2 separate regions of the Homo sapiens genome follow, and region 1 is linked to region 2. Evidence: fine-mapped expression QTL. A gene starts in region 2. The other region holds a variant in brackets. All regions are shown on one strand. Distances are from middle to middle.

Region 1 (5,385 bases), 150 kb after region 2:
TATTCCTTTTTGCCTCTGCCACCAGCATTCTCCAGGACTGTTCCTTAAACTGTGCTAAATATTGTGTACATCCTCTTGTTAAAAGTCAGCCTATCTATACCCTTCCTTTCTCTCTCTCATACACATATTATCCTAGAGTGTCCAAATGATAGGAAAGTCCTTTCAGGTATTATTTGTTGCACTTACATGTGTCTTCTTTGAAGATTGTGTCTGCCCTGCAACTGGAATGGTCAGATGACTCATGAGGATTTCTCTGAGCCTGGGACATGCTTTTGTAGTCTACAAAGGTGGACCATGTGGCTTTTTATCTTCATTGGGAGATACAATAGAATGCATATATCTTAAACACGAGCACAGATGCTTTTTCAATGTTTTCAAATGTACTAAACAACTAGGAGATCTCAGAAGGTGTCAAGTAACCACTTGCTCTTTAATGAAAATGAATACTTAACACGATGGCAGTGTGAAAATGCCTTTATCACCTACTAAAAATCTCTTCATCTGCTTGATCTGTGAACTATACCTGAGAAGGATTTCTGTTATCATCTTCAGGAAGACAGTCTTATTTTCTGTGTCCTTGCCTGAATAAGTCGGTTATTGTCATAAAACACTGTTCCCACGACTTCAGTGGGATGGGGATATATCCCCCACCCCTCATTGAAGGAATCTCCAAGTCATGGGGCAAAGGGCAAGAATATGGGAAGGAATGAAGGATTGGAAACAAACATGCAATTATTTTACTGTTATTGTCTTCAATCCAAGTAGGGCTTAACACTAATTATTTCAGACATGAAATTCTATATTCTTACTTAAATATTTCCCAGAAAGGTACTTATAATATTTTCTTTATTTTGAGAAAAATCTTTAAGAAAGGGGTTAATTAAAGTTTATGTTTACAGGAAACACAGTAGTTAGCAGGAAATGTCGGTTAACCAAGTAATTAATGGCTACCTGTGGTATACAAGCCACTGGGTAGGATCTATAGGAAATGCCGAGTATAAGATAAGGTCTCCATCCATAGGAAACAGCCACCTGTTACAGGACATCCAGCAGGTGCGGATGAAATTTCACATGAGTATAGTAAGTCACCCCTAGCTGTAGCCAAAGCTGCAGAGCAGATGCCCAAATGTCACAGCGTGTACTTTTGTTAGACAAAAAGGCTCCCACCAAAAGGCTTTTGAATATTTTGTAAAGGATTTAGAGATCAGCTCTGAAAAATTAGTCCACTCCAGGAATGGAGAACTCTGATACTCTCATTTTACCTCACAATTGCCTTCACTGGGAATAAAGAGGACCCTCCTATAACCCTTAAACAGGTCCTAGACAGGTTAATAAACAATGCCCTCATGATCAGAGTTAAAATCATTTATAAACTTCTCTGTTGGACTAGCTTGAGATTTGGGATGGTGATTTCTATTTCTTGCCTTATGTGAGGTTTAGTTTCTAGAGTCTGACAAACATAGAATGTTGGGATTGCTGTTGTCTAACTAGCAGTGAAAAAAAAAAAACAAAATTCAACTATATATCTAAGTTTTTTAGAGAATGGCAGCAGCACTAAAATCTAGGATTTTTTAGACCAACTAGACTACACTGGAATACTATTGGAATCAAACAAATGTACTTTTCTAAGTAGCCGTAAATTATACCTAAATTAGAGCTTTAAATAGTACTTTTTTAAGGCCTAGAAATAATTAAAATTGTTAGGGATAGTTGCTACTCTCTTTTCTTTCCTTGAAGAGCTACATCTTTCGTGAGTCCCAATTTTGTTTATGAACAGAGACCTCACTGGAGAAAAGAAAACCTCAGCAAGTGGAGAAAACATATTAATCAGAAGTTACTTTAAGTTAATTTTTAAAGAGAGAATGAAACCTTTCAATTTGTTTTATTGTATTAAGGAAAGAAAAACACCCAAACATAATAGTCAATTCCCTAACCAATAATAAAACAAATTTATGGACCTGCATACAGTTCTAAGATAGACATTCAATACATACTTGATGAATTAATAAGAAAAACTTGACCATTAGTAGAGAAGAGGAAATGATATATAAGCAATGAGTAATGAAATAGATTAGTAAATCTGATATAACTTGATCTTATTCACTCAGGCCTGCATTCTTCATTTTTAGGGTATGTAGCAATTCCTCACAATGTTTTAGAAACCATTGTGTTAAAACTGGAAGGTTATTAGAGATTACAACTCATACACTTTAAGGGATGGAACGCTTGATTAATGTTCTTTTATGTGAATTTCAAAGTTCTTAGCTGTGTTACTGCAGACTATAAATGACTAATGTCTCTGGATTTTAGAACCCTAAGAAAGCTG[G/A]AAATAATTTCATCTAAACTTCTCCTTTTTTAGATGCAAAGTCAAAGCCTAGAAAGGCTTGAGTTTCACAAGTTACATTTCTAGCTGGTTACACACTAGGGCTTAGTGCAGTATTCTTCCTGCAGGAAAATATCAAAACCTATGTTTGACCACTGTTATATCTGCCTTCTCTTGCTCCATATGCTGTCTACAAAATTCATTCATGTTGACATGTGTGTCAGTGGTTTCTTTTAATTGCTCAGTAATATTCTATTGTATAAATACACCATGACCTATTCATCCATTTTCCTTCTGATATGAATTTGAATTATCACCAGCCTTTGGCTGTTGTGAATATAGCTTTTATGAACACTCATATTCAAATATTTCTATGGGAATATGTTGGTATTTTTCCTGGCCAAATATCTAGGGGTGGAATTTCTGGGTCAATTGCTGGATAAGTGTATCCTGATACTTAAAAGAATTTGCTAACAGTTCCCAAAATAGCAAAGCAATGACTATAAAGTTTTCAAAGAATGAGTGTAAACTGAGATTTACGTACCCAGCCACAAAATACAGATCATGTATAAAATCCGAAGACAAACTTTTAAAAACATGCAATGAATATACATTTCCTCAGTTCCTTAAAAAGTGGAAGAGAACAAGCTTTAGCTTTCCAAGGTAAAAGGCATGGGTGTGATCATTAAATCCATTTAACTTTAGGATTTGAAATAAAAATAGTAATTTTTTATTGTAGACCAGAATGTAAATGTCTTCATCCCCCACCATATAGAAATGATTATAATCATAATTTTTGGCAAAGAAGGGAGCGGTAAGGGCAGATTTTGTAAACAGGCTGATCTCTCGTAGCCAAGGGATCCAAAGACATTTAAAATGGAAAAGCAAGAAATAAAGCTGTGAAATGTAAAGATAAACACTAAAAAAGCATAATTAACTTAAATTTAGGTAGTAGAGGCGAAGGAGTGAGGAGGGTTAAAATGGACATGTCTTAAATTCACCTCTAGCTCATAATAGGGAGTCAGTATACGTACTTTAAAAAAGAGAGGATTCAGTTTATTGGACAAAGTTAATCATTAGGAAAAAATACACACTAAAATATTTTTGACATAACAAAAACAGAAGTCATAACATAAAATATGGTGATGGAACTAAAAGCAAACATTTCTGTCATGTCAATAAAGGTCTGAATTTTCCTATGAAAAGAAACAGACTCCTATTGAGCCACAAAGCCAATTCTAACTACACACTGTCGTCAAGAGAAACACACTTAGAACAAAACACCTATACCCAGAGAGAACCATACTCAGTAATGAGGTGCCAAATGAATTCAGTTTATTTCCCATACCTTCCCAATCTGAATGAAGTGAGGGAAGGGGCAAAGCTAGACTATAATTAGCTGGGTAGAGGAGACTTAATGAGCTGTACTCTGTAAGTAAATCTACTGATGCTTGTGTTCTATTTGTTTTCTGCTAAAGATCTTTTTGGAAATTTAGACCTCCCTTTTGCTGACAATAGGGCCAGCCTGTCTGTGTGCCAAGCCCTGTCTGCCCTGCATTCTCCCTCCCCAGGCCTCTGAGCTGCCTCTAGATTAAAGAGACACAGGATGCTTATGGCTGACTGAGAAAAATAAGACTAGTGGTGATCTGATACAACAACAGTCAATTTCCCCCTTCTCCAGAGCAGCAGCTGTGCTCCATTTGTCTTAGCCCTTTCCCAGGGGGCTGCCTGTGTTCTTGTTTATAAGAGGAGGGTTGGGCAGGGTGAGTGGAGTAGACTAGAAACAGAAGTGGTTCAACTTGGCCTTTCATGGAAGGGCATGATTAAAAGAACAGTTGCATGAATATGAATAAAATATATGGCGTTTAATTTGTCTGATTGCATCTTTCATTAAACACATGATAAGCTCCAGCAGAAAGTTCTACCTCCAGGGCAGTATTACTGATATGACTCTGCATTTATCTTAGTATTACTATGGGGAACACTTATGTTTTACAGCCTCATGGTGGTTAGATTTATTCTCAGCTACTGATATTAGAAGAGTGATGACACATTCAGTGGTATTCAAGGACACTGCAAGCAGGAAGGGGTGCTTTACTGCAAACACATTTTAGATATTTGGATTATCCTTGAAATGCAGAGCATAAGGCAATAAAATGCAAAACACTCATCCCTCCTCTGCGCTCATTTTAAATATTCCATGGCCAGGAAAAGAGCCGCACAAGATTCAGTGTGGAGTCTCTACTTTCCCAAGGTGAACATTTTTTCTAAGGAGACTTATGGGCTTTGAAAAGAATGAACCATCTGAAATAAAAAATGCCCTAGGGAAATAATGAAGAATGAATGTTAAAATAAAAATGGTCTCAGTTTCTTCCTCCTATTGCATAGAGATAGAATTCTATGAGACTTGGTGTCTGCACATTATAAATTATTACACAAAGACACATGCATATGCACATGCAGATTAGAATTATTTTTTTCAGATTCCTGGTCTGTCTCATCTCCTAACACAGACATATATGTGAAATCAAGTAACCATTTAATTTTTAAAATTCAAGAATTACCTATTACTTTTGTGGATGGCAATAATTAAATTTTCGCAGAATTCTTGCCATCCACTTTTCTGAGTTTCACTTTTATCTCCTTCCTGTTCTATTAACAGAGTATGCTTTAAAAATTTACATGTGTGGAATAACGTCAGGGAACAACAGAATGAAAATTTATGAATCTCTCCCAACCCTCTTGAGGGAGCTATGACTACCTTTCAGATAGACTACATTTCAGGACCAGATCTCAGGCAAACACTGAACTTCACTCTGCTGACAATTCGAAATCTTATTGTGGGTGACTTATGGCCCAGGATCTTATTATATTCAGAAGATGTCACAGGCAAGAGTGTCAGTCCTGCTACAGGCAGATTATCTGCCAGGTACCAATCCCTACAGAAGGCCAATCCCATGACCCTGAGGCCCATCGGAAGCAAGATTCATTGTAGGTGTTGAGTAATGGGCAAATTGGCACCCTTTCTTGATAGTGGCTAGGGCAGGCTCCTAAGCTATAGG
Region 2 (5,385 bases):
ATCAATACTTAGCATTAACATTTTAATTGAGAATTAACATCACCATAATTGAAGATGAGGATGAGCATCTTGATGTTCAGGAGAGGGCTATTTGCTTGGGGAGGTCATTACGCTGGAAAGCACAAACACTGGAAAGGGAAAACGCAAATTATGTGTTTTCCTTGGGCATGGACATAAAGTAAACACTTGAACTGGTGGTCAACTGTAATTTTCTTCCAGAGCCAGCAATTCTGGCAACACTACACTTTCGATTTATAGCAAAGCACACAAGTAGCAGTGACTTTGAAAAGAAAGGATAAAAGAATCAATGAAAAAGTTACTAGTTCTTAAAGATCTGTGTCTCATTCGAGGAACTTAAGGACCTCTCCCTCAATCTAAAAGCAGAATGCACTCTTGCTGCTTACTCCCAGCATGCCCTCAGCTGTTCCTAATTACTCCTGGAGGAAGGCAATGATATTTGAGTCTGGGTTATCAACAATCCTTTAATTTTTTATTTTTATTTTTTTCCCTGGGATTTCGAACCAATATACTCCTAGCCTGAACAACATAGAACATTTCCTTTCCATTTTGGTAGAAATTATTTTTTAATGTAAATTATATTGTGTTCTATTTGTTTCCAATGTCTTGAAAAGTTCAATCACTTCTCCAAATTCTCCGAATAAACATAAGAAAATATCTCTCCCCAGCACTACCCGGTCCCCCAGTATCACCATCCTAAAGGCACTTCCACTTCCTCTATCATCAGGGAAGGAGTGTGCAGTTCTGATTTAGCTCCTCAGTGGAGTAAAGGGAATTTAGAGGAAGGGGGATTTCTGCAGAAATTGTCAGTTACACAAGTAAGTTCCTCTTGGTTCCCCGTTTCATCAAAAGTGAAAAACTGTTCACAGGAGTGCCCATGTCCCCTGTTTCCCTATGCATCACTAGAGCCAAGAGGGGACTCCGCCAGCAAGGCACCCTCTGCTCTGTCCCGCAGATCACAGTCCCCGACTTTCACCCCATTGTTTGTGCAATGTGCAGAACTGGAGCCCAAAGCAGCGGGCTCAGGATCACTCTCCAGGCCCGGCGGGCCCATAGACTCCTTCCTTGGCTGGGAAGAGGGGCTTTCGTGAAAGCAGAGCTTGACAAGCCCCAGTACTGTCATGGTCAAGATCACCAACACTACTACTGCTGTGCTCACAAATATGAAGACCACGGCAGAGGAGGAGTCGAAAGCCTGAGGAGTGGCAGAGGAAGTCGTAGAATTAAACTTGGAAATCACGCTCCCTGATGGGGTGATAGTGGCCTTTGACTCGGCTTGAAGGGACATTTGAAGGGTAGACATCGTGCTCTGTGATCCCCATCGAGGAATCTCAGGAATAGATGTTACTGAATTGTCTTGTTCAGGGACAAGTGGTGTCTCTCCCAGCTTCTCGTCGACCCTGATTGGCCATGTTCTCTGCGGCACGGGGCTGGTTGCAGTGGCCGGCGGGCGCCTGGTGGGCACCCCGGTCCCCCCAAGGGTCGGCTGTCCTTCCCCACTGGTCACACAAGAGCGGCCGTCCTTCCCCAGCTCGAAGCCCGTAGCACATTCGCAGGCAAAGCCTCCCAAGTCGTCTAGGCAGTTAGGGAGCTCTGCGCATTTGCCAGCACGGAGGTACCTCCCGGGGCAGGGACACAACACATCGCCCGAGAGTTTGTCCCAGCGAGCGCCGATTTCGTCCGCGATGCAAGTAACTGAGATCGGGAGCTGTCCCCGGCAGAGCGCACTCACCTCGGTCCCAGGTGGACTGAAGTCCAGAGCGGCGCTGTGCAGCTGGAAGGGCGCGCGATAGCTCAAGTTAGAGGCGGCCCCGGGGCGCGGCGCAGGACACAAGACCTCAAACTGGTACTTGCACAGGTAGCCGTTGGCGCGCAGGTGGCATCGCATCTCCTTCCAGCCTGCGGGCTCGACCCCACCGGTGGCCTGGAGTACCGCGCATCTCCGCGCGGTGCAGGAGCGTTGGGGCTCCTCCACCCACTGCAGCGTGTCGCTTTCGAGACCGCCGGGGTCGGAGGACAGCCAGGAGAAACCCCGCAAAGGCTCGTTCTCCAGGGTGCAGTGGGAACGCCTGCGCTCCAGTGCGACCCAGAACAGCAGGTCTTTGGAGCCCCCTCCGGGCCCTGGGCCTGCCCGCAGGAGCGCGAGCACAGCGCGCAGCTCGGCGCCCGCACGCACGGTGCTGAGCGCCCCACCTCGCAGGATGCAGGCCTCCTCGGCCGCCTGCCGCTTCATGGTAGCGTGGTGCAGGCTGTAGCAGGCCCCCGAGGCCGAGCAGCCAGCACGGTCGGCAGTGGGGTGTTCGCCGCCGCCCGGCCCGGGCCAGAGCGCCTGCCAGAGGAGGCACAGGGCGAACGCCGGCCTCATTCTCTGAGGCCCCGCACGCAGAGCTGCTCCCAACTTGGATCTGTCCCGCTCGAGGACGCAGAGCTGTGTCTGGAGCGCGGTCACCGCCCTCTACAGCTGGCTTCCCCAACCCGGTTCCCCCTCCCTTCCCCTCCGCCCTCGCTCCCGACGGACCCCCCAACTGCCAAGAATCCCCCCGCGGGCCCAGCGGCCAACAGTTTCCCTTAGGCCGCGACAGGAAATGTGTGCGGAGCGCTGCCAGGCCCGGTGCAGCCCTGAGTTATTCTGGGGTCAGGAACACAGCTGGCGCCGGGTACAGGGGACGCAGTCGACTAGAAGGTCAAACACCCTGCTTAGAGCAAGAGGAGAAATTCGCCACTGGGATGAAGTGTGTGGTTTTTCTCCGTTCAGGGAGTTTCATCAGGACCGCAGAACCCATAACACGTAAGCGAACATAGGCAGGAAGGACTTGAGAAAGGAACTGGCTTATGATTATAAGACCACGCCCGTCTATTGTGTTTCTGTCCGGAGCTGTGGAGTTAGCGTCAGAATAATTCGTAGACGGCTCCAGTGTTTGGGGGGCCTGTGCCTGTGGGGGAAAAATATGTTGTGAAACAACTTAGCAACTGCTTTTGCCACCAGAGGCAGCACTATTTAACCGCATATCTCTCTATGGGTCTTTGCTTCTCTATTATGTCAAGAGATTTCAGGAGTCCTAACTACTAAAGAATTTGGAGTTGTTTGGGTATTTTAAATGGGAAATTCTGCTTCTTCCATCAGCACTTGCTTTAGAAATTTATTTTTCACTTCCACGTGTTTCTCTTTGAGTTAGACCATATTGATTCATTACAGAAAGGAAATGTATTTCTAGGACTAAATGAAAAATAATGACCATAGATCTTAACAGTTAGGTTGTTAGCTTTCCTTGCCACTGTATTGGTTCAAAAATTCTTCAAGTTTATAGGTTATACATAAATGAGTTCGTGGCCTTATAAATATTCGAGAACAACTGCCCTATGTGTGATTTTAGCCTTGAACTATTTTAGTATCATTTTCTCCTATGATTGAGTGGCAGCATTTATAATAGTAAGTTGTAAACATCTCCTTTAAGGAAAATTAGAGTTCCTTAAGAAATTAAAATGTTTATTCCATTATAATGAATATTGTATACTGTCAAAAAATATCTTGTAATTTGAAAGATGGGTGAGCCAATTTCTTTAGAATTCCAGTGGGTGTTTTGTTTTAATATAAACATTTCAACTCAGTGGGAAGTGGCAAGGAATTAAAGATGAATAAAGAAGTAAAGGTTAAAAACTGTACTGTTATGAAAGGATTTCTTGTTAGCAACTTAGACAATTCAGTATCAGTTTAGAAAACGTACATTCTATCTTGGTTCATAATGGCCAAATACGTTGCCATCAGAAATACATAGAGAGTTTCAGCTAAGCCCTCTTAGAGATGTCTGATGCTTTTAAATATCTTTAATCAGAATGAAAGTTGCCATTCCATGGATAATGCATATAAGCTCACTTTGTTTTACTGCATTCAGGTTGATGAGGGGTGGGAGGGAAGGTTTCAGGATCACATCTGTATGCTTCCATCTTATTTTTACCATAACTCTCATTCTTCTTTCCTCCTGGAAATTCCATGTATCTTAACAAACAACAGTAAGCCTATGAGTCATCATCATACTTACCTTGCTTTTGCTGAGTATGGAGCTTTGCACTAGGATTTCTCTCCTGCCCTATTTCCCAATTTAAAGAACATTCCTTAGTCCTTCCTTCAGATGTCTGAGAATCACCTTAAACGTGGCTTTGCGTTTAAATTAGGTAACTTAGTGTCTTATAAGAAAGAAACATGAAAATCCAGAAATCAAATTGAATGGTTTTTAAAAAATACTTAGTCACTTGGGCCAGCTCTCTATAGACCATTGCAATCTTATGACTGTGTTTGTAAATGTGTCCATGTAGTGCAATATTTTTAATAAAATCTTTTTCAAACTTAAGTAGTCAATGGAAATTTCTTAGATAGCTTTAAAAATCGTTTGGGATGAGATGAGGTGTCTACAGTAAGAAAGAATGAATAGCTGGAAAGCTTAAGTAAATACATGATCTCACTCCCTGACATTCTGTCTAGGGGAGTGGGATTATAGCAGAGAACACATTGGCCATAACGACTATATGAGAGTACTGACCATGACCATGACCATATCATGGAATGACACAAGAGTTAGAAAAAATTAGCTCAAAGTAGGACGTAAATAGTTTTGTAATTAGTTTGAAATAGACAGTTTATCTGACCAAATTAGAAATGGAGGAAAGTTTCTATTTTTTAATAATATTTATTAAGATAATAATATAGAACCATTTTACCCCCACTGGATTCCAAATGCCTAAAAATCTTATAATACCAAATGTGAATCTATTGGCTCTTTTACATGTTACAGATTAGAGCAACCACTTTGGAAAAATTTGACACTTTTTTTCACTAAAATTGAATATTTGCAAACTCTAGCACTTCCATGATAAGGTATAAAACTAAGAGAAATTTTTGCACATGTACAACAGAAGATATGTAAAAAATGTTTATAGTGACACTATTCATATTAACAAAACGTTGAATCAATCAAAATATCCAAAAACAGTATAAAAATAAACTGTAGTATATTCACTAATTTAATATTATATAGGAGTAAAAATTAGTACAATATAGTGGCAAGTAACAATATGAATTTATTTTAGCAATACAATGTTAATGGACAGAAGTTCCAAAAACGATACAGAGTCTGACATTTTTATACAATTAAAAGAACAGTACTAGATATATGTTTGTGTATTCTTTAGAAAAATAGTTACAATAAAATGAGACAAAAGAAACAATAAACATAAGATTCTTAGTGATGCGCCTTTTGGGTGAGAGGAAAGAGAAGGATGGAATGTTAGGGGAACTAGCAGGCTTGATATGGGCTGTTGATAGAGTCCTAGCTTTTGTTTTGTGCAGTGGCTTTGTGTCACTACCCAAAT

Evidence for each region. PIP is the estimated chance that this variant, and not a neighbour inherited with it, causes the effect.
Region 1: its variant is the best candidate, but not a certain one, in a credible set for the expression of CLEC14A in fibroblasts (GTEx, PIP 0.85).

Annotation. Positions count from the first base shown.
Region 1 is chr14:38,402,064-38,407,448 of GRCh38, forward strand. No RefSeq gene overlaps it. Among named protein-coding and RNA genes, the nearest start is that of CLEC14A, 150 kb to the left of the region's middle. The variant G/A (reference allele first, on the strand shown) is at 2,327.
Region 2 is chr14:38,253,640-38,259,024 of GRCh38, forward strand. CLEC14A (C-type lectin domain containing 14A) reads right to left here and starts at 2,454. Exons shown (of 1, transcript NM_175060.3): 1 at 361-2,454. The coding sequence starts at 2,383. The coding sequence ends at 911. LOC112268136 (a long non-coding RNA gene) reads left to right here and starts at 2,406. Exons shown (of 5, transcript NR_169588.1): 1 at 2,406-2,806. RefSeq lists an enhancer at 1,636-2,263.